2 linked regions of the Homo sapiens genome follow. The protein of the gene in region 2 interacts with the protein of the main gene of each other region in a pairwise test. Each region holds a gene or a part of one and is shown on either strand. Other genes may lie near its edges. The genes, in order: LRRN2 and NEUROD4.

Region 1 (3,391 bases), on a different chromosome or scaffold from region 2:
CTGTCAGTCTCAGGAAACCCATTCCCTTCCCAGCCTATCTCAGAAACGGAGAGTGGTGGCTCAGTGGCCTCTGGCTCTGGCACAGCCCCTTGATGGGTCCACAGTGGCCCCTCTGCCCTTGGCTCTGTTGGCTTCCCAACAGATGTTCCTCTTCACATGTAGTCCTAAGAACTCAATCAGTTTAAAAACAAAAAAACTAAAAAAGCAAACCATGCTCATTGCAAATTATACCAAAATGAAATGGACAGATAGAATGCAGTAATTTCCTTATCCCATAGCCCTCCCCTCCCTAAATCCTCTATCACCCCATGCCCTGCTCCTGCCCTAGTGAGCCAAAGTTCTTGCTGTCTTGATGATTTGCAACTCTCTGCATGACTCTGCCTCTTGGGTTTGTTTAATTAGAAATAGGCTGGGAAGTGCTTCCTATGCTCTGGCATGTTAATTGCTTATCAGAGAAGGAGAAGGGGTGACGGCATTTGGTGATGGAAATTTCCGCTCTCCCCATCTCAGGTTCGTCTCCATGGTTCTCTCCCACCCCTCTCCTTGCCTCCTGCGCTCTGCCTCCCTCCCTTCCTCACTCTGGTCGTTGTCACAGCCACAGAGACTCTTGGGGGCCAGAAGCAGGCCCAGGGGCCAGAATTCAAACCGAAAAGGAAAAACTGTCCCCTCTTTCACTCTATCCCTTTTCTTGTCCCTCTTCTCATATCCCAGCTGGCCCCCATGCCCATCACCCTCCAGGCTCTGAGGAGAGTCCAGAGCAGAGCTCCTTAACCACACTCAATACTCAGAGGATTATTTTCCTTTCGTTCCTTTCCCCCGTATTATTGTTATTATTTATTTTTATTTTTTACAAAACAGGAGAAAAGAGTGAATCGGGTTGGGGGAGGTGACACATTTCTCCACAAAGGTACAAAATTGCCTATAGAAAGTCAGCTTCGGAATGCCGAGCCCAGGCTGCTGAGATGAGGCGTTCCTGGGCATCCCTCTCCCAAATGTCCTTCAGATCTGGCTGGGGTCACTCCCACATTGAGGGCAGCCCCCCGAGGTGAGATGGAGTGGCCTCCTTCAGCCCTTGCCCAGGAGGCACAAGAGCAAGCAACTGAGACTGTACAGAGAAAGAGAAGAGGAAGGGGTGCAGCCCGGGGACACAGGTAGGGGACAGCCAAGCCAGGCCCAGGAGCCTCTGGGCAGAGAGAAGATGGGGAGGCAGGAGGCTCTAGCCAAAGTCCCTCCTGTTCCTTGGAGATGTTCCTCAGAATGGCAGCAGAGGTGACCCTAGGAGGTAAGGGCAACTTTTTCGAGGCTGCAGAAGCACCCCCAGGGCCACAAAGCCCCATCTGTCTTGGCCCAGCTGCCAGGCCTCAAGCACGTGGGTCCATGTCCCTTTCCTGGCAGGGCATCTGGCCCAGACTGCTTCTCTTTTGGTAAAAAGTAGTCCTAGTGATTTCTCTACTGCTGAGAACAGGCTGAGCTTCAAGAATTTTGAGACAATGGTGGCAACAGTGTCTCCCCTTCTGAGGATCTGGGCAGCTTCCTCCCTGGATTCCAGGGCAGGACGAGGGGAGCAGACACAACCCGGACAGAAGGGGCACTCCAGCCCCAGAAAGCCCAGGCTGGAGGGAGAGGCCGCCTCCCACCCACACCCTTCCTGGGTTGGCCTGTGCCAAGGTGGGCCGCTAGCCCAGCTGCCAGGAGAAGGACAGCGAGAGCCAGGATGGCAATGAGCCCAGGACGGTCCCCTAAGGCTCTGTGGCAAGAAGTGGCCTCTTTGGTCCTGGCCCATACACAAGCCAACTGGGTGTGGGCATCAGCAAAGGCCACTTGCAGGCAGGCCCAGTACTCCGTGGCCTGAAGGAGGCGGGTAATGTTGTAGCTGTGGGTTCCCCGAGGCAGGCGGGCCAGAGCTGTGGCCCCCTGGCCCCGGAGGGAGGAGGCACTGGACCAGGTGAGGTTGGTGGACACTGTGTTGGGTGGGGTGACCCAAGATAGCAGGATGTGATAGGGGTGGGTCTCCTGCACCCGGAGCTCCAGCCCCTGTCCTTCGTCCCTGCCTGGCTGGAGGAGAGCACGGCCCACAACCACACTAACCGTCTTAGTGTCAGCCCCCACCAGGTTCTGGGCCACACAGGTGTATAGCCCTGCCTCTTCTGCTGTCACCCTCCGCAGCTCCAGGGTCCCCTCGGGGTACACCCGGTACCTCCTGCCTGCATGGGCAGGTGTCAGTCGAAGCCCAGCTGGAGTGACCCAGTAGATCTCGGGTTCGGGTTCGGCCAGTGCCCGGCAATGCAGCACCATGCTCTCTCCACTGGCTACCTGGAGGCTTGGGGGGAAGCTTCGTGGGGAGATGAGGGGCAAACAGTGGTCCGTCATCTCCCGGAAGGGCACCTCACGGACCGGGAGGCGCTGGAGGTCCGGAGGCTCCGCACACAGGGTGGATTGCGGCTCGATGAAGCGGACACGGGTGCCCGTGGCATTGGCCCAGCGGATGACACAGTCACAGCGGATGGGGTTGCCGTGGAGACCTACCTCCTGCAGGTTGGGCAGGGACTCCACCGTCTGCTGGTGCAAGGCACTGAGAGCGTTGTTGTTGAGCATGAGGGTCTCCATCTGGGGCAGGTGGTGGAAGGCGCGGGGGTGGATGAAGGACAGCCGTGGGTTATTGGTGATGTCCAGCTTGGTCAGCTCGGGGAGGTTCACCAGGGCAAACTTGTCGATGGAGACCAGCTCCTCCATGTTGTTCAGTCCCAGCTCCTTAAGGTGCAGCATGTTGGCAAAGTCCCCCGGCCCTACCCGCTGGAGCGGGTTCTTGTTGAGGTCTAGGAACTTGAGCCCGGGCACCTGTTCCAGTGCCCGCCTGGGCACCCGGGCCAGCTGGTTGTCATAGAAGGAGAGGCTCTCCAGGCTTTGCAGCCCCTCCAGGGCATAGTCGGAGATCTCCCGCAGGTTCATGCCTGCTAGCACCAGGCTACGCAGGTTGGCCAGGGGCCGGAAGTTCATGTCCAGGATGGCATCTACCTTGTTGCCGCCAATCATGAGTATCTCCAAGTTGGGCAGCATTTCAAACCAGCGGCTGTCAATGGCCCTCAGGAGGTTGGAGTTGAGGTGCAGCCGCAGCAAGTTGCTGAGGCCAGAAAAGGCCCTGGGGGCGATGCGGTAGAGCTGGTTGTGGTTGAGATAGAGTTCCTGTAGGCTGGCCAGCCCTGCAAAGCTGTGGTCCTCCAGCCGGGTCAGCTGGTTCTCCTCTAGGTGCAGGCTCAGCAGCTGGGGCAGGGCATGGAAATCACAGTCTCGGGCATCCGAAAAGCTGTTCTGGGACAGGTCCAGCTCTGTGAGATTGGCCAGGTAGCCCAGCTCACTCTGGTCCACACGGACAATGCTGTTGCTCTGCAGG
Region 2 (3,822 bases):
ACATCTAATAAGACTTACAGCTTTATTTCTGCTAGGAAAAAGGGAGGAAAAACAGTCATATTTTAAACAAAATATTTAAACAATTATTTTACTTTATCTAAAAAAGTCTCCAGAAGAATGAGACCACCCTATGTTGGAGAGCAGGCTCTTTACAAGCTATTGCATTCCTAAATTTTAATTCAATTATAAAATCCCTCTGTACAATTTCAGGGAGGCTTGGCTCATGGGTACCATACTCCCCAAAGGCATAAACAGCAGATTATTAAAGAATAACTCTGGCTCATTTTAGACTGAAGAAAAGACTCTAAAAACATTAACTTGCATAGCCATTCGAATTATTGCTGCTTTTTATAAAAATTATCACAGAGGTAATTCTCTATTTTTTCCTTTCCCCTCACTCCAAAACTCAGCAGTTCTTAGCAAAATTATGAGCTACTTTCCAAATAAAATTTTAGGAAGGGTTTGCAAGCACATCTATGGGGCTAAAGGAATTTTCGTGAAAGGAAGAGAGAAATAAATTAAATAAATAATATCTAATAAATAACTCAAACAACAGTGATTATCTACAAACTTAAATGCCAGAAAATGCTAGCTTCGAGGATAGACCCTCCTACAGCCGCTCACAAAGGTAAGTGCAGTATATACTCAGAAAGCACATAGTATGGCTTTATATATCATTTTACTTGCCTATTTCCTCTAGGGCAGATTGTGATGAAGGGAACCACTTTGGTGACTGATGGGGCTTAAGATCTCTCTGCAAGGCTACTTTCAAGTGAATTTACAAACCAAGGGTGCAAAATACAGCAGGGTAAGTGCTGAGAGCAAAATGGAAAAAAAATAACTTATACTGTATGGAGATAATAAATAAGAGAGGTAAACAGACAAGATACACATATAGTTGGCAGATTTTAGGGGATAGCTGAGCTATAGAAAATGACATACTAATATGTGTTATCATTTTTTAAATTGGCCCTATTGATGTACCCTGCATGTTAAACTTATCCTTTCTGGCAGGAGCAGGACCTAATCTACTATCAAATAAGCCATTCAGGCTCTGGTTTGACTTAAATAACTGTCCTGGCTGATTGAACAAGATAGGAAAATTTCTCAGGTCCCATTTTCTGAAAAAAAATACAAATTTGATGAAGTTAGCATTGATATAAAGGAAAAAGGAGTTACATAAAGAAAAATAAACACTCTGCAAATTGGGTTAAACCTGTGATGAAGACATAGTTGGTAAAAATATTCACCAACCTTGGATTTCATTTCTGCATCCTTAAGTTTGGTCACCTGAAATGTTATTTACAATATATAATAACATATTCTATCTTAGAAGTGAGGAAGAGGTAACAATTAGTGTAGGGGGAGAGATAAGGAACTACATATATGTTGGAAAAATTTAACCTTGATCAATAAATTGATTGGTGCTTGTGCTTCTGGAAAATATATTGGTGTGGACAGAGGTGGATGGTTTTAATCACGTTTAACCAAATGAAATTCATCTTGCTTAAAAAAAAATCCATTGGTTTTTCCCATGGGCAACTGTGAGCTGGAGAGAGTCCCTGAACTATAGTAGTTATTATAGCCAATAGCTATTTTATTGCTCTTTAATATAAACCTGTGTTGTGTGCTGATTCTAACAGCAGCACCTGAGCTTCATCAGAAGTTCCAGAGCCCTCTGGTTATGGAGGTCATGGTCTAAAAGACTTCTCTATGTCCCATTAGTTATAGGAGTCTGAGGCTTCAGTGACTTGTTTGCCCTACCTCTAGTACTGAGAAAAATGGTTTTGAAATATTATCAAGAATAAAGTTGGCATGAGGCCTCTATTATGGTTCTCTATTATGGTTCTTCAAATCATAAGGAAGATATGTTCAACTTTTAGTCTAATAACAAATAGAGTTAGTCTCTTAACGAACATGTTTTGTTCTTCACAGTGACAGCCATGTTAGACTTTTAGCTTCCAGAAGCTATTTTTCAATAGATACAAAGAGGTCCTATCATTAAATCCAAACAAGCTTTGCATTCTGTGAGCCAAGAGACATGTACCTTGTGATCCCTCTGATAATTCAATTTGATCATTCTATGCATAGCATCCCTTTCCTATTATTTCTCTATTCTTTCAGTTTCAAGAAATTGTCAAGAGTGATCACCACAGTTATAGCATTTCAGAACTGTGAAGGACTTTAGAAATCATCTGGACTTAGAATAGTTGCCTCATATAAATACAATTTGTTTATTTACAATTGCTAGTAAATAAACAAAGGCCAGAAATGGAAAATTAATTGGCACAGATTATGCAATGAGTTTTTGGCACCACTGGAATAGGGCCCAGGTCTTCTGTTCTATTTTCACATGGTTGTTAAATCATCAAATATTTTCACTTGAGGACTCTATAAAGAAATCAATGCAATGTGAGAAGGTGATGAGAAAAGAGGTGATAGGTGAAGGAAAGCCTAAATGGACTTGAACTATTGTTTGATATATATCCATAGGGATCCTTTAAGGTCATTGAATCTTTAGCTCAACCACTTGAATTATGGAAAATGTCTCCACGTCATTCTCTGAAACATTGAACTTAACTGCCTCACTCAGTGAAGACTGTATTGAGTTGGGTCCCAATACCATGATGGGGGTAGGAATCATAGGACATGTCTATAGGAACATCATAACGGGGGGTACCAGCCTGAAAAGGAGTTGAATGCACATGCCCTGAGCTTAGACTTGAAGAAGGGTAATGTGGCATGAAGCTGTAGGATTTTTCTAGGTCAGGAGACCCATCTTGCTTCAAGGAGAAGTTCCCACTGATGCTCAGGGGTGGAGTGAGTGGGCCCTCATAAGGGGGTGTACTGCAGTCAGGCAGATGGCTCCCAAAGGACGATTCTCCCAAACTCTTGAATACTTGGGGCTTGAGATGAAGGAGATGTGTTTCCATATGACCATAAGGAGGGCTAGGAAGCCCCGGAGACTGATAGTTGAAGTTGTGGACAGAGATGGCAGAGTCACAAATAGGAGATTTATCCTCGTGCTTCTCCAGGAGGACAGACTGAGGGCCCAGTTGGAGACATCCAGCCACCAGGTTGCTTGTGGGCTGAGAGAGCCCTTTACACAGCATCTCCACAAAGCCTTTCCCTTCAGGTGTCTGGCCAGTCTCCAGGACTTCAGATAAAGCCCAAATATAGTTCCTGGCCAGTCTAAGAGTCTCTATCTTGGAAAGTTTTTGGGTTTTAGAGTAGCATGGCATGACTCGCCTCAGGTTATCCAGGGCGTCATTCAGGCCATGCATCCGGGTCCGTTCTCTGGCATTAGCCTTGACTCTTCGAGCCCTGAATCTCTCAAGGCGAGCTTTGGTCATCTTCTTTTTCTTGGGACCCCTTCTCTTAGGTTTCTCCCCATCTTCTTCCTCTTCTTCTTCTTCCTCAATACTGTCATGCTCTTCAGTTAAGCTGCTGAGCATCCCATAAGTACCTGGTCTGCTCTCTTCCTCCTTCACCTCATTTTGGGAGCCCAGACCTTTATCCATCCAGGATGGTGTGTTGACTAGCTCTCCCATCTCCTTGGATTTTACAAAAGTTTTTGACATTTCCAGACTCTGGAAAAGGGAAATATCAAAGGTTAATTCCTGTGAGTACCTGATTTTATTTGAAACTAAAGTTTTTTATATGTAATTATCTTGTCCAAGTCTTCCATTCTAAATGACCAGTCCAAAACTGAAAGAAATTCCCAGAATACTCCTTTAGTTATGGCATAGTATAAGAAAATATATTATAGAAAAAGAAAATTGACTTGATTATTCATTGCAGTGTTAGTGCCTGTTTTTATTC

What was found.
Region 1: the proteins of NEUROD4 (region 2) and LRRN2 interact in a two-hybrid assay, tested with the Homo sapiens proteins (one large-scale study listed by BioGRID and IntAct).

What each region holds. Positions count from the first base shown.
Region 1 is NC_000001.11:204,616,378-204,619,768, forward strand, and holds the end of LRRN2 (leucine-rich repeat neuronal protein 2 precursor), read right to left. Parts: coding exon 1,474-3,391; 3' UTR 793-1,473; downstream 1-792.
Region 2 is NC_000012.12:55,026,199-55,030,020, reverse strand, and holds the end of NEUROD4 (neurogenic differentiation factor 4), read right to left. Parts: intron 3,591-3,822; 5' UTR 3,582-3,590; coding exon 2,586-3,581; 3' UTR 4-2,585; downstream 1-3. UniProt on the Homo sapiens protein: Probably acts as a transcriptional activator. Mediates neuronal differentiation. Required for the regulation of amacrine cell fate specification in the retina.